3 separate regions of the Homo sapiens genome follow, and all the other regions are linked to region 3. Evidence: fine-mapped QTL for protein levels in blood plasma. A gene starts in region 3. Each other region holds a variant in brackets. All regions are shown on one strand. Distances are from middle to middle. Region 1 holds the start of LOC105370564 (a long non-coding RNA gene). Region 2 overlaps LOC105370564 (a long non-coding RNA gene). Region 3 holds the start of ENTPD5 (ectonucleoside triphosphate diphosphohydrolase 5 (inactive)).

What was found. PIP is the chance, under the fine-mapping model, that this variant and not a neighbour inherited with it causes the effect. The UK Biobank Pharma Proteomics Project read protein levels with antibody pairs (Olink). The fine-mapping took linkage between variants from a reference panel, not from the people measured, so its PIPs are less certain.
Region 1: its variant is fine-mapped to the plasma level of the ENTPD5 protein (UK Biobank, PIP above 0.99).
Region 2: its variant is fine-mapped to the plasma level of the ENTPD5 protein (UK Biobank, PIP above 0.99).

What each region holds. Positions count from the first base shown.
Region 1 is chr14:74,214,171-74,222,349 of GRCh38, forward strand. It overlaps LOC105370564 (a long non-coding RNA gene), which reads right to left and starts at 3,594. Exons shown (of 3, transcript XR_944025.3): 1 at 3,410-3,594; 2 at 476-587. The variant C/T (reference allele first, on the strand shown) is at 3,829.
Region 2 is chr14:74,203,566-74,211,744 of GRCh38, forward strand. LOC105370564 (a long non-coding RNA gene) reads right to left here. Exons shown (of 3, transcript XR_944025.3): 3 at 5,296-5,386. Among named protein-coding and RNA genes, the nearest start is that of VSX2, 32 kb to the right of the region's middle. The variant G/GA (reference allele first, on the strand shown) is at 3,547.
Region 3 is chr14:74,014,918-74,023,096 of GRCh38, forward strand. It overlaps ENTPD5 (ectonucleoside triphosphate diphosphohydrolase 5 (inactive)), which reads right to left and starts at 4,371. Exons shown (of 16, transcript NM_001249.5): 1 at 4,333-4,371; 2 at 907-1,013. BBOF1 (basal body orientation factor 1) reads left to right here and starts at 4,432. Exons shown (of 12, transcript NM_025057.3): 1 at 4,432-4,617; 2 at 7,999-8,179. The coding sequence starts at 4,562. RefSeq lists silencers at 3,729-4,023, 3,939-4,008, 4,049-4,188, 4,199-4,268, 4,299-4,548 and enhancers at 6,829-7,123, 6,889-7,183.

The sequences.
Region 1 (8,179 bases), 200 kb after region 3:
AGCTGGGGAGGGAGAAGCAGCGGCTTGCATCACCTGACCCTACTCAGCCAATTCACGAAGACAAGATGTCAAGTTAATGAGCCTGTGGGCCTCTAATTAGCTGTCAATTACCTCAAATTAATCACCTCCTCGCCTAATTAAGCATTATCGGCAGGTGGGCACAAAGCAGACCATTGTGTGAGAGCCATGAGAAAAGCTGGGCTGGCAAACTTGGTTAGGATCAGCTCTGTGCACTGCGCCCGCCTCCCCACAGCGCTCAGCCATGGGCCCAGCTGAGAGGCCCTGGGGCCCTCTGCCCACCACTGTCCCCAGACACTGGGGTACTTGGGGACCTCCTGGGAAGCTGAGTGGACTGGAAGGGAGGTACAGAGCCTAGAGGCAGGTGAGACAGCTTTGGGGCAGTGGGGCGGTAGGAACTGGAGGCCACGGAGAAGGGCGGAGCTTCAAGGCGTGGTGACCAGCTCCAGGCACTTACTGAGAGCCAAGGCGAGAGCTGGGCAGAGGGGACACCAGGTTGTGGCTGGGCGTCCAGGCCTGTGCGGGCAGGCAGAGCTGGCTTCCAATGCTGGCCTGGCCACTTGTGAGTTCTGTGAACCCAGAAAGAGACAATGTTTTTGAGCCACAGTTTCCATCCCTGGGAAGAAAATTTTTTTTGTTCTAAACACTGTCCTGGGTCTTTGTGAGGGTTCAGTAGGATCATGCTTGTGGAGCACCTGCCACATGGTAAATGTTCAATGTCTTTACTAGTGGCAACAGTGGACATGGGTGGTTTAAGACCCAGGGCCACCTCACCTAACAACTGCTGAAGCTGTATTGTATCCCCAAATTCTGAGCCCCCGGGCCTCAAGCCTGTAGTGCACCCTTGAAAAATGTGAGTGGGCTGGCCAGGCGTGGTGGCTCATGGCTGTAATCCCAGCACTTTGGGAGGCCGAGGCGAGTGGATCACCTGAGATCAGGAGTTCGAGACCAGCCTGGCCAACATGGAGAAACCCTGTTTCTACTAAAAATACAAAAATTAGCCAGGTGGCGGGTGCCTGTAATCCCAGCTACGCAGGACGCTGAGGCAGAAGAATCGCTTGAACCTGGGAAACAGAGGTTGCAGTGAGCTGAGATCGTGCCACTGCACTCCAGCCTGGACAACAGAGTGAGACTGTCTCAAAAAAAAAAAAAAAAAAAACAGGAAAGAGAAAAGAAAAATGTGAATGGGCTGCTAGGACGCACGGTTGCTGGATGCCGGGCTATCTGGCTACCACTTCCTCTCCACTCCCTCCCCATCGCCCAGCACCTTCCAGGGATCAGAGCCCCACTCACAAAGTGCCCTTGGTGCCATATGGAGCTCACCAGATGAGAAGACCACAGTTCTCTAACTAGAGACCAAGAAGAAGAGGGCCCCTTGGGTCTTGGGACTGCAGGGCCTAAAGCAAGGGGGGTCTCCAGGCAGCCCCTGGGCACTGAGTTCATGCCCCCAGCCATGGTCCTGGGAGGCTGAACAGAGTTCCCGCTCTCCTCGGCACAGGGCAGGGTGAGGCTGGGGGCCACCTGGACAGCTCTGCGCTCCCACTGACTGTCAAAGGCCACCACTCCCATGCCAGATCTGTCCCCTCACCCCACCCTAGCCGCCCCTTGTAATCTGTACCCACTACTTCAGCCCTGGCACAGGAAGACCTTTCCCTATCTCCTGTGGTAACAGAGACCCTTAGCCTCGCCGCCATGAAAGCTTGGAAACATCTTTCCTCTCCTTGGTCTCGGTCATTTAGCAAACATTGTACCTTACTAATTAAGCTCACTGTAAAGGGGTGATGGTCAGGTGAACACAAATCATTAATGGATGCTCTGGAGAGACAAAGAACAAAAAAAAGCTAGCACTTATTAAGTGCCTACTGTGTGCTGACAGGAGTGGTAAGAGATTCCGTGAATATGTTACACCTGTATATACTGTTATGTTTAATGAATTATTTATCAAAATAGATAATACATATACACACAATTTTTTAAACTAAAATAAGGGTGTAGAGGAAACCACAGGCTTCCCTCACTCCCCTGCCCTCCAGCCATCTGATTCTGTTTCCCACAACCAACCAGTAACCAGTTTTTCATACACTTTTCCAGAAATTAAAAAATATTTATATGTATATACATATTTCATTTTCACAAGTGAAATAAAACGTACTGTCCATCTTCCTTTTTTAAAAATAATACCGTCAGCCGGGCGCAGTGGCTCATGCCTGTAATCCCAGCACTTTGGGAGGCCAAGGCGGGTGGATCACCTGAGGTCAGGAGTTCGAGACCAGCCTGACCAACATGGAGAAACCCCATCTCTACTAAAAATACAAAATTAGCCTGGCGTGGTGGCACATGCCTGTAATCCCAGCTACTCAGGAAGCTAAGGCAGGAGAATAGCTTGAACCCGGGAGGTGGAGGTTGCAGTGAGCCGAGATTGCGCCATTGCACTCCAGCCTGGGCAACAAAAGCGAAACTCCGTCTAAAAAAAAATAAATAAATACTGTCTTGGAGATTGAATGTGGAATAGCAGCACAGTATTCCACTGCATGAATGTGAACTTTTTTCTTCTCTTTAAAATTACGTAAAAGTTGGCCGGGTGCAGTGGCTCACACCTAGGAGCGTCTGTCCATTAGCTTGTATGTCTGTCCGAATGGAAGTGCCTCCCTGGGCCGGGTGCGGTGGCTTACGCCGGTAATCACAGCACTTTGGGAGGCCAAGGCAGGAGGATCACTTGAGCCCAGGAGGTCGAGGCTGCAGTGAGCTGTGGAGGCACCACTGTACTCCAGCCTGGGTGACAAAGCAAGACCCTGTCTCTAAAAAACGGGGTGATGGGGCTCTTCCGAGTGAAAAGGTGGAACTACTGACCTAGTCCCACCCTGTCAGTTCACCATGAGGAAACAGGCTAGAAAAGGGGTTGACTTGTCCTTAGTCTGGAGCTGCCTTGTCAGGTTCTTCCAGGTACCACTTGATCACGTGGACGGGATGGCATTAGCCGTGCACACTGGGCAAATGCTCCGCCACCCTCCCTGCTCTGCTGGGCTTGGGAGGAGTAAGCGGTGGATGAGATGTCCCTGATGTGTTGGGCCTCCAAGGAGGCCCTTTATTTATTTGTTTGTTTGTTTGTTTGTTTATAGTTGAGTCTCACTCTGTCACTCAGGCTGGAGTGCAGTGGTGCTACCTCAGCTCATTGCAACCTCTGCCTCCCCGATTCAAGCGATTCTCCTGCCTCAGCCTCTCAAGTAGCTGGGATTACAGGCATGCGCCACCACGCCTGGCTAATTTTTTGTTTTTTAGTAGAGACGAGGTTTCACCATGTTGGCCAGGCTGGTCTCCAACTCCTGACCTCAAGTGATCTGCCCGCCTTGGCCTCCCAAAGTGCTGGGATTATAGGCGTGAGCCACCGCACCTGGCCCAAGGAGGCACTTCCATTCGGACAGACATACAAGTGAACGGACGGACGCTCCTAGGATGGGTGCTATGCATTGCTTAAGAAGGGGAACCTTTGAGGACCCTTGAAATCCCTCCCCTCTGATGCCTTGGAGGAAGGCGGACTGGCCCAGATTCCCGGACCGGCAACCGCCACCTGCCTCTCTGGTCTCCTCCCACCCCGAGGGGATCGCGCTCGCGCCGCGCCACTCGCGCGGCCACCGCTAGAGGGAGCCGGGAGCGTCTCCGAAGTCTCCCGCTTGCGGCTTCGCTCAGGCGCTGCCTTTCACCCGCCTCGCAGGGGCTGCGAGGCTCCGACAAGACTGGTCCCTTCTTGTCATTAGGCCCTAGGCCCGCAGCCCTCCGCGGCCCCGACCTCTAGGAGGTGCCCAGCACCAA[C/T]AGGCCGACCCTATGCTCCCTACCCAGCCCTCCGCTATGAAAACCCTAACGCTGCTCTGCTACTGCCCCCATTTTACCAATTAGGACACAGAGAGGCTGACAGATGTACCTAGGGTCACACAGCGAATGCGTGGCAGAGCCGGAAACCCAGGGGGCCTGGCTCCGAACCCCCATGCCTCAGAGGATCTCAAGCACCTTCTTGTATCTTTCTGTTCAAGGGGAAACCGAGGCACAGAGCAAGTCTAGAGCATACTGTGTGGGTGGCCCAGTCTGCCAAGGACCGACAGGAGGCTAAAGCTAGGCGGCCAGCCCCTAGGCAGATGACCACAGCAGAAAAGCCTGTGGGGAGAAGAGGTGCCAGCCTGCCCCAAGGTGGGGGTGGAGGGGGCTGTTGGTGCCTCCCAGGATGGGTGACAGCTGCAGCCTTGGGTGGGAGGCCAGAGGCCCCACACGATAATAACTTTCACTCACTGCCCAAGAGCTAATCCCATTACTCTGCATGGACCCTCTGGGACCACCTCCCTAACCCCCCTTAATCCCCTGTCTCCCTCTGGGAATGGTCCAAGGGCCTCCCTGCCAGCCCATGCCAGCCCCAGGCACAGGCAGACCTTGCCCCTCAAGCTCTGTCAGACCACCTGTGCCCATGAATGCCCATCGTGCCTGATTCTTGGGGCCCCAAAGGGACAGCCAAGAAGGGTGGAGGTCCAACCTCTCTCACCCACCTTCCCTGCCATCCCTGACCCTGCCTGCCAGTCCCCAAGGCACCTTCCCAAAATAGCCTCCGGCTGGGATCCAGGTTTTCTGAGCCTCGTGTTCCTTTCTAAGCAGGCTTCTGGGGCTTGTTATCGTTTTTGTTGAAGGAATTGGCAGGAGAGAGCTTGGGTCCACAGTATATTCATCTGTAAAATGGACGCAATCGCCCCCAATTTCTATAGTCGTTCCGAGGATACAATGAGACACTATGAGACACGGAGGACACAATGAGACACAAGCCTCCGGAGTGTTATTATCAGTGGTACAGAGCTGTCTTCAGATATGCAAAGGAAGTGGATTTCTTTTGTGTGTTACCAGAAGGAAGCTCCATGGCCAGAAGGCAGATGTTAGAGAGGAAGATTCTGAAAGATACACACTGTCCTATAAGGGTGATAAGAGCCACCATGTACTTGTCTTGGTCTCTTCCTTAGGTGCCAGGCACTTAAGCTTCACAGCACTCTATGAGGTAGATACTGTCATTACCTGCGTTTTGCAGACGTGGGAACTAAGGTTAGGAAACGGCACACAGTGGTGGAGTTGGAATCAAAAACAGCTCTGACTCCAGAATTTTCTGGGGCATTCTGCCTCTCAGGATCTGCTTCTAAAAGGGGGAGCTGATGTCTGAGAGCCACTCCGCCCCCAAAGTAGTGAGCTTCCCATTTGCCAAAAGTGTTCAAGGTGATGCTGAGGGGCCACACCAGGAACCACCGGTCAGGAGCCCTGAGGTCCCATGGCAGCCCCCAATCCTCCCAGCATCCCCAGGCGCGGGTTTCCAGGAGGAGCCAGGCCACTGCCCCCTCCCCAGCCTGGACACAGAGGGGGCTCCGTTTGGCGCCCTGGGCCTCCCTCTCCCCCACCTTCTGCTGCTCCTCATTTACATAAATTATCTCTCTCCAATTATCCATCCAGCTGTCCCAACGGTGATCTGTGAATGAATTAAAAATGGAATATAATTTAATAATGGCTGATTAGAAGGAGATTAGTTGTTATATAAAAATGAAAAGCCAAGAGCCAGCTAGTTGCCCTTAATCTGAGCCAATACCATCGTTATTCCGGAAAGGCCCCCTGGCCACCATCAGGCAAGGCAGACACGGGGACAAAGACTGGGGGAGTGCCAGGTGGGGCTAGACCACCCCAGAGAGAAGATAGGGCACTGGGAGGCTGGAATTTGCAGCATCTCTGAGCTGTGGGGCGTGGGCATCTCCTGTGGCTTCCTTCAAAACAGGTTTGGGTGGCTTCTGGGGTCCCTTTTTGCTCTAAATTCTAGTCATCCTTGAATCAAACCACTGGGCTTTCCCAAGGCAGCCAATGACTTACACCAGACCCTGCTAGGCATAGGATCTGGGGTTCAGGAGTTTCGTTCCTGCTCAGGCCCCGCCTCTAAGAACACATAGCAGTAGGGAACACAGACTTCCCCTGAGGGGGTCTACCTGTCTAGGACAGGTGGTCAGAGAGGGTCTCAAGCTTGGTTGGTCCAGACGGTCCACGGAGGATGGACTGGCTGAGACAAAGAAGGGTGAGTGTGCCCAGTGGGACCTCTGGGCCATCTGAACCTCAGGTTAATGACTAGATCTAGTGAAGGGGACTAGTGCCTCTCCTCCAGGAAGTCTTCCCTGATCTCCTGGGCTTTGGGGTGTCCCCAGTGTTTCTACGATGCCCTGTGTTTTCTCCATCAGTGCACTGAGCACTGCCGATGGGGTGTTCAGGCCCCCGTTTGTGAGCTCCATGGCTTCTTCATGTCTGTATCACCAGTGTTGGGCACACAGTGGTTGCTCTACCACATCATTGAACAAATAAAGACACCACCTCCAAAAAGCCTCTGTGATTGCCCTAGTGTAGGTTATGCGCTCCTTTCTTTGCTCCCCAAACACACTGTGATTATGCCTTTAAAAATAAGGCAAGTCATTGCTGTGGAGAATATAGAGAAGGACAAAATTTTAGGTAAAGGTGGATAGATGGAGACAGAACAAAGTGGTTAAGAGGAGCAGTTTGGAGTCAGACTGCCTGCGTATGCATCCCAGGTCCACCTCTTATTGCTGTATGACCTGGGTGGGGCATGTTACTAATTTCTCTGTGCCTCAGTTTCCTCATCTATACAATGGGTGTATATAATAATAGTACCTACTCCATAGGATTTTGTGAGAATTAAATGGAAGCACTTGTGGCTCTTATAATGCTTGTCACACCGAGAGCCTCTCATCTCTGTTGATGGTGCTGGCTGGACAGTGGGCCTGCGCAAAGCCATCCCAACATCCCTGGCTGCTACTTTTACACTGCAGGGCCCACAGGGACACAACACTGTGGCGGGACCAGAATGTTTCACCAACCTCGGGCCTTCCTGAAGAGGCTCACAGCTCATGACATGCCCATGAGAGGGGTCTGAGCCCCGGGGCTCAGGTCTGGGCAGCGAGGCCTGTGTGACTGACATAAGAGGATGTCTGCTAGGCCTGAGCTTGCAGAAAAGGAATGAAAGGGCCGGGTGGCCAGAGGAGTTGGGCATGCAGACCAGGAAGGGAAGGCTGAAGAGCTCTCTGCAGCCGCTGACTCAGGCCTCAGGGGCCATCATGGAGCAGACAGCCAAGGAAATATTGTCCACAGTACCAGAGGCTGGGAATGAACAGGGTGGGCACCAGAGGAGGCTGATTCTCTCAAAATGAGAGGCAGTACAGATTGTGCACAGCAAGTGTTTGTTGATTGGCTAACTGAGCTGCACCGGATTTTTCTAAACTTTCTTAGTCAAGAAAATCTTGATTTCTTATGTTTGTAGAAGGGCCTGGGAATCCGCACATTTGACAAGAGCCCCCGGTGAGTCTCAAGAACAGGAGGTTTTGACCCCAAACTCCATCTGTCCCTCAGTCACTGCTGCAGTGCCCTCTGGCAGTGGGGGCTGACTGGTGACCCCCACCTTGCCCACTACCCTCTGACACTCACTCCCATCTCCACAGCCTCAGCTTCAGTCACTCCCAGGACAATCTCCCTGGTGAAGCCTGAGCACATCGGTCCATATTGCAGCCGGGGGAGGCCTCCCAGACCAGCCCAGGCTGTGGGATAATTTGATATTCAAATCCTGGCAAAGACCTGCTTCAAATTGCTGCAAATTAAGCTGATTTTGCCCCTCTGAATGAGGGATTTGCTCCTGTGGATCAACCCTCTTCCCAGGACTTGATGAGGTCAGGATTAGAGACGGGGAGAAAAAGCCTGAGGCCGGAGGCCGGAGAGCTGGAGAGCTGAGGGGCGGGGGGAAGCCGAGACCCTGGAGTTAGTGAAGGTTCCCAGGGTCTCAAAAGGCAGCTCTACCCAGTGATAGCAGAGCCTCTGAGGCCCAAATGGGTCAGCCCCACTCCTCCATCCCCCCAGGAGAGCACAGCTCTGTACTGTTCCCAAAGCAGTTTGTGGACCTCATCCAATCTTTCCAAGCACCTGTGACCCAGGGCGGAACCGATCACCCCCATTTTACTGATGAAAGGGGAGATGAGGCTTTATTGGCAAAGACAATCTGGACTCAACCACTGCCACCGACTTGCTACGTGACCTTGAGCAAGTGACCTCTCTCTGAGCCTCCTTGTAAGGATGACTGGCGATGCATACACAGTGCCAG
Region 2 (8,179 bases), 190 kb after region 3:
CTGGTTGGCGTGAGTGCTGGCAAAGCCTGTTAATTAGCACAGAAACACCCCAGTGCTCCATTAGCTGGGCCAGGCATTTGGAACCTTCCCCTCCTGTGGGCCCCTTCCTCCTAATGAGAGCTGGAAGAAGGGCCCTCACAAAACACTGCCTCAGAATAATATTCTGCTTTGTCCCCACCAGTAACCAGGGCTGACAGGATCACTCTGTCCATTTCTCTTCTAATTAGCACAATTCCAGCATGGCCTGAGCCAGCAAATAGAGAAAAGCGATCAAAAGCGATCGGACAACCGTACCGAATCACAAACACAAAGAGGGCCATTCCCTGTAATTAGGTGAGACAATTCCTCAGTCTTTTCTCGGCTGGAGTTTGCCGCTAAGACTCTTGCTGTTTGGGTCCCAGCAACACAAGTTACATGTCTCCCTGGGACACTAATAAGCCCCAAATTGTCTTCCGCTTCACACAACTCTACCCAGAGGACAGACATGGGGTGGTGGGGCAGGTGGCGGGGAGGGGGTGGGGCAGTGCAGTGAGGGGACGGGTCTCCCAACAAGCAGCTGCTGCAATGTTTCCCCAACTTCAAGAAGCAGACACTGGGGCTGTGGGCAGAGAGGTAAGAGTCAGTTGGCTTGAGAGAACTGCTCTTGGCACAGCCTGGCCCCTGTCACTTGAGCTGGAGTCTGAAGCACTGAGAATTTCTGACCCTCAGGGGAAGCCCCCTCTCAGCTATTTGCCCTACTCTGTTCATTCGCTGCCTCCTGTCTATGGCCCCCTCACTCCTCCCACCTCTGCAGACTGGTAGCATCACTCCAGGAACTACATTGAGCCCTTCACAAACTGTAAGCCCTACACAACTATAGTTACCATTGCAAAGAAAGCTAACACACAGCACGTGAGTGAATTCTGCCCTAGAAGACTGCATGACCTGGAAGGGGCACCCACTGCCCCCCTCACTCTGGCCTTCATTTCTAGCACCCATCACCTTTATGTCCCTGATTGTGTCCCCAACCCCTGCCTACTATCTCCTCTCTCCTGAAAGATCCCTGTTTTTTTAAAACAGAAAAGTGGCCCATCTGCCAGGGCAAGAAGCTGTAACTGGCCGCGCTCCATGTGGCTCAGAGGTTGGTCACTTAATGAACAAAAACAGCTCCCCCAGGATTGCAGCCCATTACGGGGATTACTTGGGGCGATACAGCCGTAAACTTGGTCATAGCCAGGGACAAAGGAATGCAGGGGAGAGTGGCAGTTGGAATCTCAATTAAACCCAAGTTCGGAGCAGAATTGGGCTCACATATTTTCATCTCTCTCTTGCCCTCTGCTTTCTGTCTCGATCTCTATACCTGATGTTTCTGAAAGTGACCTCCAATACCAAAGGAGATTCAGTTATGTAGAATCTGAGGAGCCAAAAAACTCAAGTAATCAGAGTTGCATTGTTTTTCTACCTTCAGTTTTCTGAGGCACAGAGAGGATAATGATAAGATTTGACTTTTAAAAATAACTTTTGGGACATGCCAAAGAATTGATCCAAATTTGTTCAATTTCCTACAGTTTCTTTGGTTATAAACAGAACTACCTGGCACATAATAGGTGCTAAAATAAGCATTTGTTGAAAGAATGAACTGTGCCTTGACATTCGGTGTTCATAGCCTCATTGCTGGTCTAAGATATAGTAAGTGCTTGGATTTTGAGAGAGAGGCAGGGGTGATCTTGTGTAAGTTACTTCTCTCTAAGCCTTGGTTTCCTTAGGACTTTTTCCACTTTAAAGAGTCATATCAGCATCATGGATAAGGGCACAGGCTCTGAAGTCAGGCTGCCTGGGTGCAAATAGCACCTAACTACTAGGGTAGCTGTAGAGATTAAACGAGTATTGCAAAGTGTTGAGAATGGTGCATGGCATATCTTACCCATTACGTATATAATTGCTTGATGGATAGATCTATAAAACAGATTCCATGTAGTATTTAATTTTTTATTATACTCACATTTGTTAAAAATTGACAATCCCTAGGCCGGACATGGTGGCTCACACCTGTAATCCCAGCACTTTGGGAGGCTGAGGCGGGTGGATCACTTGAAGTCAGGAGTTCAAGACCAGCCTGGCCAACATGGCAAAACCCCGTCTCTACTATAAAAAAAAAATGAAAAAATACAAAAAAATTTAGCTGTGCAGGGTGGCAGGTGCCTGTACTCCCAGCTACTCAGGAGGCTGAGGGAAGGGAATTGCTTGAACCTGGGAGGCAGAAGTTGCAGTGATCTGAGATTGCACCACTGCACTCCACACTGGGTGACAGAGTGAGACTGTCTCACACAAAAACAAACGACAAACAAAAAAAACATTGGCAATCCCTATAGGGAAAATATAGTAACTTCTGGTTACCTTGACTAGTCAGTTAAGCAGAATACCATTTCTGTAACCCTTCAGAAGAGCTGACAGTTTACTATTTCTCCTACCCCCATCCTTCCACCCACTGAGGCCCTGTGCCAGCATGGACACTCAGTAGAAACCATTGTTGACTCTACAGACAGTGGCATTAAGCAAGGGAGGGAAAGGTATACTTTGTGACATTGGCAAGTTTCTGAACTGATACTGAACTTGGCATACATAAGCCTCAAATCACTGTACTTTGCTAATCTTTGTAGTCCTAGTATTTTCTGAGCATCCATGCTTTTCCAATCACTGCACAGGAACACACTTCCCTGTTTGATTCAGTCATAACCTCCTACCCCTAACCCACCAGTCCTCCACATTCCTCCAGATAGTTTTCTTTTTCCTTTCCCTTCCCTTCCCTTCCCTCCTTCCCCCACTCCTCCCCCTCCCCCCTCCCTGCCTCCCTCCCTCCCTCCCTTCCTTCCTTCCTTTTTTTGGTGAGACAGGGTCTCCCTCTGTCACCAAGGCTAGAGTGCAGTGGCACGATCTCAGCTCGCTGCAACCTCTGCCTTCTGGGCTCAAGCAGTCCTCCTGCCTCAGCCTCCAAAGTAGTTGGGACCACAAGCACGTGCCACCACATCTGGCTAATTTTTGTATTTTTTGCAGAGATGGGGTTTCGCCATGTTGCCCAGGCTGGTCTCGAACTCCTGGGCTCAAGTGATCCGCCCACCTCCGCCTCCCAAAGTATTGGGATGAGCCACTGTGCCTGGGCCAGATAGTTTTCTATGGTGTGAGATTTGTCAGGTTCTCGCAAACCTGTCAGGTCCCTTTCCAGGACTAAGCAGGGTCCACTCAGGCTTCTGCTCCCGCAGCAGCCTCCTCTGGGCTTTGCCTTCTCTGGGAGCCCATGGAGAGACCCTCGCCTGACTGCAGCCTGAGGCCTCAGGGTCAAGCGAGGCTGAAGGTCACATCCCAGGGCCTTTCTGGACGCAGCCAAGCCCCAGGAGCCAAGCTGGCCTGAGCCAGTGACTTCACACAAAGGAGCAGCTGAGAAGAGTCAAGTTGGGAAAGTCAGTGACTTGAGGCTGAGTAGAAATGAGAAGTGCTGGCTGTGGCAGGACCCATGAAGGATATGTGAGGATTGGAACCAGAAATGATCTCTGAGGAATGGTGGTCGGG[G/GA]GGCTCATGGGGAAGCAAGGTCCTGCGAGCTGCTTCACCTTGGCCTCCTACTTCCCGCCATCCACCTCTGCTGCTGCTGCCTCTGCCTTCAAGTGGCCCAAAGGCTGTTCAGATGTGCAGCTGTTGAGTAAATCATGGTACATTCCCGTAGCGAACTGCCATGCAGCCATTTGGTGTGTTTGCAAAGAGGTTATGATATCATGGAAGAAATGGTTTTGTCATAAGGATAAGTGAAATGGCCAGATATAACAATTACAGTGGGGTGGTGAATGGAAGGCAATAGGCGAAGGTGGTAATAGTGCTTGCTGCCTGGTTGGAGGAATATGGGGTATTGTTGTTTTCTTCTACATTTTCCAAACTCTCTACGGAAACAGGTATTGATTTTATAATACAGGGAGAAAAAAGCCTCTGGGGCCGGATATACAGATTTTAAAAGCCCTGCTTCTCAGCTCAGCCTGTTATCCTGCACACATGTGCATACATACATAGTTCATCGATAACCTTTGTATATGGTAATGAAATTTGTTCTTTAGTATGCAAATGTATATCAATCTGTACACCAATAAGTGTTTACTGAGCACCTAATAAGCATCCAGCTATACCCTAGGATCTCTACCTCATTGCATGTAATGTGGAAAAAAAAAACTTGTTCCCTATTCATGACAGTCCCATCTCTCCCCACACTCCTCAGAGCCTTTGCCCAGGAGCAGAAAAAAATCATTCAGTCAGTAGGTGTTCAGTGTTGCCAAATAGCTATCTTTTTCCTCAGTCTTTCCTTACCTACCCTGAGAAAATATGTCTCACCTAACTTTGCTGTAGAGTCGTAGCGTTAAGTTTCCCCCAGCTCTTGGACATGCAGCATCTTACTTCAGATGTGTTTGCGAGAGTTTCCTTCGCTACTTTCTCCTTGCTTCCCTTCCCCTTCCCAATTGGAGAGAAGGAAGAAAAGATGAGTTGGGGGTCAGGAGTAGAAATGGGTCAGAGAAGAGTCTGTAATTATACTCATGTTTTCATCACAAACAACCAGTTGGAGGCGCTGCACAATCAGGAAAGAGAAGGAAGTGCATTTCATCTGAGTTGGAGTCTGGAAGACACAAGGGATATGTAGGAGGTGGTTCTCACTTTTATTGGGAGACAAGTGTGTATATAAAGTCAGTTTCCCTGCAGGATGAGAAGCATAGTCATGGAATTGCTAAAGAAGATATAAAACCCTCAGGACCAAATGACATGAGAAAATGGAGAAGAATTGACCTTGTCCCCAAGAAGTGACTTGACCACATCAGCCCCAGGTTCCCAGAATATACAAGCCCACACATCTGACTAGGCCTGGGCTAGAAAATGGGCGGAAATTGGGAGCACTCCCCATTTTCCTTGATAGAAATAGATGGAGCAATGAGTAAAATTCTATGCCTGCCACATCTGCTGCGTCCTCCACTAATGTATGCACTTGTCCATCCTGTTTTCCAAAGAGGGACTGCTTTCTGTCCAGCTCAGAAGAGCAAAACGAAGAAGGAACAATGTCAGCCATGTGTAGCCCTGAATCCTGCCCTACCATTGCGGTCGCTCTAGGGCTTTCAGCCAGAACTGGGGTGGCCAGATCTGATCAGTCTTCCAAAGGAGCGAAGAGCACTCCAGAACAGACAGCTGAAGCAGTTGTTACAGCAGCAGGATTGCAGGGCAGGCGACGCTTCACAACATCACCAAAGACTGATGCAAATTGGTTTGGTTCTGACCCTGTCACACCAGGAAGGATAATGACTCCAGCAGCGCCAGGCATGGGAGGGAGCACGTGGTGGGGGCTGTGAGGATTGGTGTCTCACTTCACATCTTCATTAATGATCTGAAAGACAGGGGTAAACAGCATGCTAATGAAACCTGCAGATGATTGGTGTTACAAACCCCAGAGAGGACAGAGAAATAGCACAACGAGACCCAGAGAGCTTAGAAATATGGGCAGGAGACTGTCAAATGAGACTCGTCCTAGGAAAATGAAAGTCGACACGTCAGGGAGGAATGATGAAGGTGCCTCTGGGTGGGGGCCTGCAAACCTGAAAAGCAGAGATGGGTGGCAGGGTCAGGAGGTTGAGGGATATGATAAGGTTTGGGGTGTGTTGGAGGGAGACAGAGGAGCTGACCTTGAGGACCCAGGGGACAAATACCCTTGTGCATTTCTGGTCAGGACTGACCATGGGGCCAACAGTTCATGCAGCTGGGGAACCAAGCAGGTTGTACTGGCCCATTGGCCTGTGTCAGCTCCAGGACCCCTCTGCAACCCAGGACCTCTGATTTCACAGTCACAAGCTATGCCTATTTGCACCCAAGCCATTAAGGCTAAAAGCGCCATTTTGACCCGACCTGCTATTTTCCTAAAATGAAACAAGCCAAAATACATCTTTAACATTTTGCACTAAATTATTGGGGAATAGGAAATTCAAGAGCAGAGAAAGCAAAAAATGTCCGTATTTTCAAGGGTTTCCCATTCAATAAAGATTTATCAGAGCGTAACTCATTTATATTAAATCTACAAATCTTAAGTGAACAGCTCAATGATTTTTTTCCTTGACCAAATCACTTCACTTCACCAAGTCTTGGTTTCCTCGTCTGAAATGAGCATAACAGCAGAACATATCTCACAGCTGTGTTGTAAAGATTAAATTAGACTCGGTAAAGCCCCTTGGGCACAGTAAGTACTCACATATGGGGTGATTATTATTACTGTTTATTATCCTCTAATTTTATTCCTTAAGCTTTACTCTTAGCTCCCTAAGTAAATGATTAATTTCTTGAAGTCAAGGACTGCCTTAAACTTCTTTTCAGCTCATGGGTGCTGAATAAATCCTTGTTTGATGGATTAATGTGTTAGAAAATTCTTTTCATATAAATAATTTTATTCTTACCTAACTCAGATCTACTTTAAATGAAATCACTTTCTTCAAAATAAAACAAAAACAAGTAAAATCCTTATATCACAAGAGTGTTTTGAAGACAAAATATTCTGCCTTGAGTCTATGTTAACACCATGTGCTGTCTGGTGAAATTTTAGGCCAGAGGAAATCCCAGCCTGATGATTAAGAGCTCACTTTTGGGGCCGGGCACGGTGGCTCATGCCTGTAATCCCAGCACTTTGGGAGGCTGAGGTGGGTGGATCACAAGGTCAGGAGATCGAGACCATCCTGGCTAACACAGTGAAACCCCGTCTCTACTAAAAATACAAAAAATTAGCCGGGCGTGGTGGCAGGCACCTGTAGTCCCAGCTACTCGGGAGGCTGAGGCAGGAGAATGACGTGAACCCGGGAGACGGAGCTTGTAATGAGCTGAGATCGCACCACTGCACTCCAGCCTGGGTGACAGAGCGAGACTCCATCTCAAAAACAAAAACAAAAAACAAAAAAAAAGCTCCATTTTTGAGTCCAGTCGGGTTTGAATTGGGGTGACTAGCCGTCTGATTTGCTTGGAACTCAGGGGTTTCCTGGGAGGAATAACAGTCTTGACCATGTGACCGTTGATCACTCTAGTTTTAATGTGGTTTCTGCTACTTAATAGCTTTGGGGTGTGGCCTTGGATAGGATTGTTACCCTTATTGAACTTAGTTTCCTTTTCCGTTAAAGGGGGAAAATAACTACTTCACCAGGTTGTCGAAAGGATCAAGTGTCCCAGATGCGTTGGTTCACACCAGTAATCCCGGCATGTTGGGAGGCTGAGGCAGGAGGATTACTTGAGTCCAGGAGCTAGAGACTAGCTTGGGCAACATAGTGAGACCCCATCTCTACAAAAAAAATGTTTTTAATTAAATAAAATTAGCCAGCGCAGTGGTACATCCCTGTAGTCCCTGCTGCTCAGGAGGCAGTGCCGGAAGGATGGCTTGAGCCCAGGAGTTCAAGGCTGCAGTGAGCTATGGTGGCAGCATTGCACTCCAGCCTGGGCCACAGAGTGAGACGCTGTCAAAAAAAAAGACAGGGGGTGGCAAGCATGATGCTCACACCTGTAATCCCATTACCTTGGGAAGTTGAGGCAGGAGGATCACTTGGGGCCAGGAGTTCAAGACCAGCCTGGGCAATATAGTGAAACCTCATCTCTCCAAAATTAAATTAGTCAGGCATGGTGGTGCACACCTGTAGTCCCAGCTACTTGGGAGGCAGAGGCAGGAGAACCACTTGAACCCAGGAGTTTGAGGCTGCAGAAAGTCATGATTGTGCTACTGCACTCCAGCCTGGGCAACAGAGTGAGACTGTCTCAAAAAAAAAAAAAAAAAAAAGAATTCAAAGAATATACCTTTGCCTATTCCACTTATACCCAACAAAAATGAGTTGACACCAAAAGACACGTGTGAAAACAATAGCAACTTTATTCATTCAAGTAAAAAACTGGGGAACAAAGGCCATCAGCAGGAGAATGGATAGATTGTATATTCTATGTGGAATGCCAACTGGCAATAAAGAATGAACAAACTACCATGCCGCTTCACACAGTAATATGGATGAATCTCCCAAACACGAATGAAGGGCACATACCGTATGACTCCATCTGTATGAAATTCTAGAACAGGCAGAACTAATCTATGTGATAGAAGTCTAAATAGTAGTAACCTTGGAGGTATTAACTGAAAAGGGGCCCGGGGAGCCTTCTGGGGTTT
Region 3 (8,179 bases):
ACTAAAATACAAAAATTAGCCGGGCATGGTGGCAGGCATCTGTAATCCCAGCTACTCGGGAGGCTGAGGCAGGAGAATTGCTTGAACCTGGGAGGCAGAGTTGAAGTGAGACAAGATTGTGCCACTGCACTCCAGCCTGGGCGACAGAGCAAGACTACCTCTCAAAAAAAAAAAAAAAGAAAGTAACTCCCATAAGAAACAGTTTGGATAATAATATATTTATTCAGGATTCTAAAGGCTATGTAGAAACAAAATCTAAAGTTGTTCACTTAGACTGATCCACCTATAAAGTACCATCTGCTATAAGGTGATCTCAAGAATGATTTATGAAGGGAAACATGGCCTCTAAGGTAAACCCGAATAAAGTTATAGATGAATTTATAAAGTAAACCCAGTTTTGGACCTACTAGAAGAAAAAAGCAGAAGTACTACCCACCCCCCGCCCCCCCTTTTTTTTTTGAGAAACAGTCACACCATTGCTCAGGCTGGAATACAGTGGCACGGCTCACTGCAGCCATGATCTCCCTGGGCTCAGGTGATCCTCTGAACTCAGCCTCCTGAGTAGCTGGAACTACAGGTACATGGCCACCACACCCAGCTAATTTTTGTATTTTTTGTAAAGACAGGGTTTTGCCATGTTGTCCAGACTGGTCTTGAACTCCTGGGCTTAAGCAATCCGTCTGCCTTGGCCTCCCAAAGTGTTAGGATTACAGGCATGAACCACCATGACCAGCCAGAAATTCTATCTATTTTGATACATAATAGTTCTAAATTTTATATATGGCTTGTTGGACAAAATTAACATCACTTGGCAAAAAACAGAGAATTAAATTCAGGAAAAAAAGAAAACCACCATTCAGGAACATTTGAAATACATTTATAAATTTAAGCTAGTGGAGATATTACCTTACATCTGGATACAAGTCCTACCTAACAGCACCATAATGATCTTGTCTGTATGAGGATTCAGCCAAGACACTCCACATTTCTTTGTTGACCAGGAACAAGGAAAACTGGACAGAAAAAGAATTACAAAACCAAGTCAACAAAACATGAAGTGGCTTATTCCAAGTTTAAAAGCATTAGTGTTCTAAACAATGAAACAAGGAAAATTTATTTAGTAATAATTCCTGGAACTTCATAGTAAAGGCACCTACCAGTAACTGTGGAAGGAAATGCTACCAGATAAACTACTAAATAGCAACTTCCTACTCTACTATCTGTACTATCAGTTGTTGCTCACCAGCAGATGACAGTAACAACATCCAGTTCTTTGGTAGAAAATGAGGGGATTCAGAAGAATGTAGACTCTATATCCACCTCTACCAGAGTATGAAATCTTGGCATTTCCCTGAGCCATATTCATGTCACAACAGCTTTATCTACAAAATCAAACTTAGTCAATAAAAAATATATATAATACAATAAAATAAACTAGGCCAAGTGTGGCGACTCATGCCTGTAATCCCAGCACTTTGGGAGGCCAAGGCAGGAGGATCACCTGAGCTCAGGAGTTCAAGACCAGCCTAGGCAACATGGCAAAACCCTGTCTCTACAAAAAATACAAAATTAGCCAGGCATGGTGGTGCATGCCTACAGTCCCAGCTATGCCAGAGGCTGAGGTGGGAGGATCACTTAAGTCCAGGAGGTCGAAGCTGTAATGAGCCATGATCCTGCCACTGTACTCCAGCATGGTTAAGAGTAAGACCCTATCTCAAAAAAACCATCAAAAAACCCAAAAACCAATAAAAGAAACTATAAAGTACTATAACTAAGGTACTACGCATACATTAATAATCTTGTTATAGTCAAATTTTTATGTTCATACATTAATCTGTAAGCCTATGTTCAAATGAGGAGTCTTGGACTGACTTTCATATTATAAAGTTACCAATTTCTAGAATAAATTCCAAATATACAGCCTGTGACAGAAGATGCCCTACTCTCTTTTCTGCAGCTTATCAACAGTGTGCTTTTTCAGAACCTTACACATACAAAATTAATGGTAACTTTATAGATTTTACATCAGAGATAAACTCTTCAATATATGGCGATTCCGCCTATGGACTCACGGGAGTGTGAAAGTATACCAGAAATACACTCAGAAAAAGCTATGATCGGCCAGGCGTGGTGGCTCACGCCTGTAATCCCAGTACTTTGGTAGGCCGAGGCGGGCGGATCACCTGAGGTTGGAAGTTCGAGACTAGCCTGACCAAAATGGAGAAACCCCGTGTCTACTAAAATTACAAAAGTAGCCGGGCATGGTGGCGCATGCCTGGATTCCCAGCTACTCGGGAGGCTGAGGCAGGAGAATTGCTTGAACCTGGGAGGTGGAGGCTGCGGTGGGCCGAGATCGTGCTATTGCACTCCAGCCTGGGAAACAAGAGCGAAACTCCATCTCAAAAAAAAAGAAAAGAAAAAGCCATGATCATGCTGGCAGATGGTATGTATAATAAGGTTTACGCCAGCCTGACCAACATGGAGAAACCCTGTCTCTACTAAAAATACAAAATTAGCCAGGGATGGTGGTGTGTGCCTGTAATCCCAGCTACTCGGGAGGCTGAGGCAGGAGAATCGCTTGAACTGGGAGGTGGAGGTTGCGGTGAGCCGAGATCGTGCCATTGCACTCCAGCCTGGGCAACAAGAGCAAAACTCTGTCTCAAAAAAAAAAAAAAAAAATTTTACAGCCGGGGGCGGTGGCTCATGCCTGTAAATCTCAACACTTTGGGAGACCAAGGCGGGTGGATCACCTGAGGCCAGGAGTTCAAGACCAGCCTGGCTAGCATGGTGAAACTCTGTCTCTACCAAAAATACAAAAATTAGCCTGGCATGGTGGCACGCACCTATAGTCTGTTACTGGGGAGGCTGAGGCAGGAGAATTGCTTGAACCCGGGAGGCAGAGGTTGTGGTGAGCCGAGATTGCGCCATTGCACTCCAGCCTAGGCAACAAGAGCAAAACTCTTGTCTCAAAAAAAAGGTTTACAGCCGGGGCGGTGGCCCACGCCTGTAATCTCAACACTTTGGGAGGCCGAGGCAGGTGGATCACCTGAGGCCAGGAGTTCGAGACCAGCCTGGCCAGCATGGTGAAACTCCATCTCTACCAAAAATACAAAAATTAGCCGGGTGTGGTGGCATGCACCTGTAGTCCCACTTACTGGGGAGGCTGAGGCAGGAGAATCGCTTGAACCAAGGAGGTGGAGGTTGCAGGGAGCCGAGATGCCCCACTGCACTCCAGCCTGGGTGACAGAAGACTCTCTCTCAGAAAAAAAAAAAAAAAAGTTTACAAGGCTTATCATTACCAAATCGGCATGTTCCCTCAGAAGAAACAGAAATTCAGAAACAGAAACTATGCAAGTGGGAAACAAGGCGGAGGGGAGTAATTAGAGGTCAAAGACATCGGGAAGGAGTGTACGGATTAAGTCCTCCCTAGAGAAATGGTGACGAAGGATCTACAACCACATTTAAAATAAACTTTTTAATTTGAAATGGAGTATAACAGAGCAGAGCTTCAACCACAAGTCTCCTAACTATTGGCTTGGCACTCAGAATACCGTACCTTCCTTAATGACTCACTGACTGACTCTCATTGAAAAATGAGAATACTTGTGAGTACACTCCTTTTCAGAGGTGTATTCGGGATTTCAGGAGTCGGGGAGGCAAGTTGAAGAGCTTCCAACTTTATGCAACTTTCAGGAAAGAAGGCTGCGGACCGGTATTAGCAAATGGAAATCCGGGGGGCGGTCGTGGGCAGGAAGTATCGGCCACACAGGACCTAGTGAGGCCGAGGACCCTGCTCCCGACCTCGGTGGCAGCACTCCCCTCCCCGCCCGGCTCCCTGGCGTGCCGCTGCTCTTCGGAGGCTGGCAGCCTCGCCCTCAACCACCGCCCTCGGGAAAGTCCTCGACTGCCTATCAAAAAACATTTGGCCTGGGACGTCCGCTGGCTGCACTATCCCTTACAGAATCAGCAAGGGTGAAAAGCCAGGAAAGAGATGCAACCCAAAGGAGTAAGGCAGTGCCGGGAGCGGCAGAAGCGGAGCGGGGGCGAGGGCAAGGTAGCCGCGGCCACGCTGGCTGCGGCATGGAGACACGGGAGGAACGGGACCCGCGGGCGGCACGGGAAAGGGCTGCGGCTCAGACCACTGCGGCGGGACGGGCGGATCAGCGGGGATCTAAGTCTCCTGAGGCAAGGGCGCCCCGACCGCAGCGACTCCTGACACACCCAGGCCGCAGGACGAAGCGCTACCGCCTGGGGCTGCCAGCTCCCGCCTCCCGCCCGCAGAGCCCGGGCCCCACGTAGAGGATCCGGCGCCGCCGACACTCGCACACTCACCGCGCGCGCGCCACCCTTGCGCGGCAGCCCGCCGCCCTCGGCGCGACCTCCGCCCCACCCCGCGCGCCGCGGCGCCTGGGCTACGTCACGGGCGCGTGCGCTCTCCGCGCGCCGTCAGCGGCGCGGGTGGGGCATTGCCAGCTCGGCGTCCCGGTTCCCTTGGAGACAGAGCTGGCCAGGGCGGCCGCGGCTGGGCAACTACGACAGCGGAGCCCCTGGGGAAGCCAAGATGCCGTCGAAGGGAAAGGACAAAAAGAAAGGCAAGAGCAAAGGCAAAGACACGAAGTAAGGAGAAGCCACCCGAGAGTCCCCTCTCCCTGGGCCTGCCTGGGATTTCGGGTCTGGGGCTGGCAACCTGGCGCCCCCCGCGCCGGCCCACTCGGACCCTCTCCCCGGCTCTCCCGGCTTGTGAGGATTACAGCTCCCATGTCCATAGTCTGGCAGATCTCTACTATGTGTTCAGATTATCTTAAACGTGTAGAGGATGTATAAAGTAGTTCCTTGGGCCTTTTCAGAGATCTCTTTTGGTTCAAAGGGGACACCTAAAGTATTTTACCAAGTTGGATAATTATTGAGGTTTTCCCAAACTGATCAGAGCCACTGAGGTGGGTAATGTTCTAGCACTAACCCCTTACAGGCCTGGAGTTGCTGCTAGATTGCTACTAGCCCTATTGGGGGACCCCGGTGGTTTCTGGACACGTTGGAGTCATACGTGGTGTCCAGCAACAACACCATATATGGGAACACAGAGTTGGCACCAAACTTGAGATGTTTGTAAAGTAACTTAAGAGAGTAATTCATGCTCAATACAGAAAGTTTGGGAAACATGGGAAGTACCAAAAGAAAAAACAAAAATCACCTGTAGTCTCATTATCCAAAAATAAACACTACTATATTTTGGAGTATTCTTTTTTAATAAAACGATAGCCCAATGTACATACTTATATGTGGCTTTTTTCTTCCCATTTGTTAATGTAAGTATTCTTTTATGGTATTTTTTTTTTGTTTTTACATAACTGCACAGTTAGTCTAGCCCTTAAAGTGCCAAGGGCTTATCACATTCCTAGAACTCACTAACATATGTTTTCAGATTTTGACCATGCTTCTACAGTACACATTTGAACAATGAGGAACACTAAGGGTAAGAGACCTTATTCCTTGGATTTTCCATGACCCATTGTTTGAGAAACCTGGCTTTGTTTCTACAGTGAGTATCAGTGGTCCTATTAGAGTGTCTAATTTCTTGCATCAAGTACTTTTTTTTTTTTCTTGACACCAAGTTTTGCTCTTGTTGCCCAAGCCGGAGTGCAATGGCACGATCTCAGCTCACTGCAACCTCTGCCTTCTGGGTTCAACCAATTCTCCTGCCTCAGCCTCCCGAGTAGCTGTGATTACAGGCACCCGTCACCACGCCCAGCTAATTTTTTTATTTTTAGTGGAGACAGGGTTTCACCATGTTGGCCAGGCTGGTCTCGAACTCCTGACTTCAGGTGATCCACCCGCCTCGGCCTCCCAAAGTGCTGGGATGACAGCCGTGAGCCACCATGCCCTGTCGCATCAAGTACTTCGAGCCACTCAGACCTGATACCTGGATGGTCGTAGTGAGACAGTGTATCACTAGTGCCTAAATCATGCCAGAAAGGGACATCAACAGCTATAACAGGCTGAGGGGTTGGGAATGGAGCTGGCCTTAATTTGAAGAGAACAAAAGGTGAAAGTGGGACTTTGGTTCTCTCCACTGCAAACCCATTACCTCTGTGGAAGAGGACTGAGAACCAGAGGTAGGAAAGTGGATGTGGAGGGTGGCAGTATAGAAAGGTCCACATGTACATATGTGTGAAAATATTTAGAATTCAAATACAGGTGAAATATTCTTAAATATGTACATATTTATATATCATGGTACCTACCATATATAAGGGGGAGTGTTTTGTTAATGCTTATACAATAAATATTTAGAAAAATCTCTTCCTTTACCACTTTAATCTTTGAATCCATCCTTTTTCCTCTCCACCTCTATATAAATGATTATGGTTTCTCAGGCATCCTTAAAGCCCGGTGGGTGGGGCATCGTGGCTCATGCCCAGCACTTTGGGAGGCTGAGCAGGGGAAGATCACTTGAGCCCAGGAGTTCAAGACCAGCCTGAACAACATAGGAAGACCCTGTCTCTACAAAAATTTTTATTAAAAATTAGTTGGGCATGCTAACTCATGCCTGTAGTCACAGTTACTTAGGAGGCTGAGGTGGAGGATCGTTTGGGCCTGGGAGGTTGAGGCTGCAGTGAGCTGTGATGGTGCTACTGCACTACAGCCTGGATGACAGAGCAAGATCTTGTTTCAAAAAAAAAAAAAAAGTCCGGTGAACTGTGGCACCAGCTGATAAACTATTTAACGTATTTGCCCTAGTGACTTGACTTTTTGTCCAAGACCTAGCCCAAAACAAAACAAAACAAAAACACCATCCTGGCTAACACGGTGAAACCCCGTCTCTACTGAAAATACAAAAAATTAGCCGGGCCTGGTGGCGGGCTCCTGTAGTCCCAGCTACTCGGGAGGCTGAGGCAGGAGAATGGCATGAACCTGGGAGGCGGAGCTTGCAGTGAGCCGAGATCACGCCACTGCTCTTCAGCCTGGGTGAAAGAGTGAGACTCCGTCCCTCCCCCAGAAAAAAAAAAAACACACTCAAAAGTGGAGGGTAAAGTGGGTGGGAGATCACAGTTATACTACCAATGGGTATCATCATGCAGAAACTGAACAGAGATAATGGGTTTGCAGTGGAGAGAACCAAAGTCCAGCACTGAGTGAGTAGGAATAGAAAAGATAGTTTAACTACAGGAGAATCAGGCTAGGGCACTGGTTCACACCTGTAATCTCAGCACGTTGAGAGGCCAAGGTGGGAGGATACTTGAGCCCAGAAGTTGGAGACCAGCATAGGCAACATAGTGGGACCCCATCTCTATTAAAAAAAAAATAAATATGGGAGAATCAAATAAGTAAATGAAAAGGTATAAAAACTGCCCAAGCGCAGTGGCTCACACCTGTAATCTCAGCACTTTCGGAGGCTGAGGTAGGAGGATCACTTGAGCCCAGGAGTTCAAGACCAGCCTGGGCAACATGGCAAAAACTCATTTCTACAAAAAGTACAAAAATTAGCTGGGCATAGTTGCATGAACCTGTAGTCCCAGCCACTTGGGAGGCTGAGGTGGGTGGATGGCTTGAGCCCAAGAGGCAGAGGTTCTGGGGAGCCGAGATCGTGCTACTGCACTCCAGCCCGGTGACACAGCCAGGCCCAGTTTCAAAAAGAAAAAAAAAAGATATGAAAGCTTTCTGAAATGAGTTTGGCTTATCCTGTCTTTTCCCTTTGTTTTACCAGTCTTTTCGAGTTATGCTCCAGGACTCCCCTCCTCCAGGAAGAGGCACTTACTTAATTATCTTATGTGAATACAAGTGAATATGTATTTCTTTTTTTTTCTTTTTTCAAATGTGAATATGTATTTCTTATTAACTTATTCTTCCAACAATATTTGATCATGTGTGCCAGGCAATGCCAAGCAAAACAAATAAAAAAAGAGAAAAATTTAATAGTAATATAATAGAGTTATATACTATCTGCATATTAGAGTTGTATAAATAGTCATATACTGTCAATATCCTCTTCCCATGCAGGAAGTTAATAAAAACAGATGAATCTGTGGTGGACAGAGCCAAGGCCAATGCCTCCCTTTGGGAGGCCAGGTTGGAAGTCACAGAACTCTCTAGGATTAAGTATCGTGATACTTCACGGATACTGGCAAAAAGTAATGAGGACTTAAAGAAAAAGCAATGTAAAATGGAGAAAGACATAATG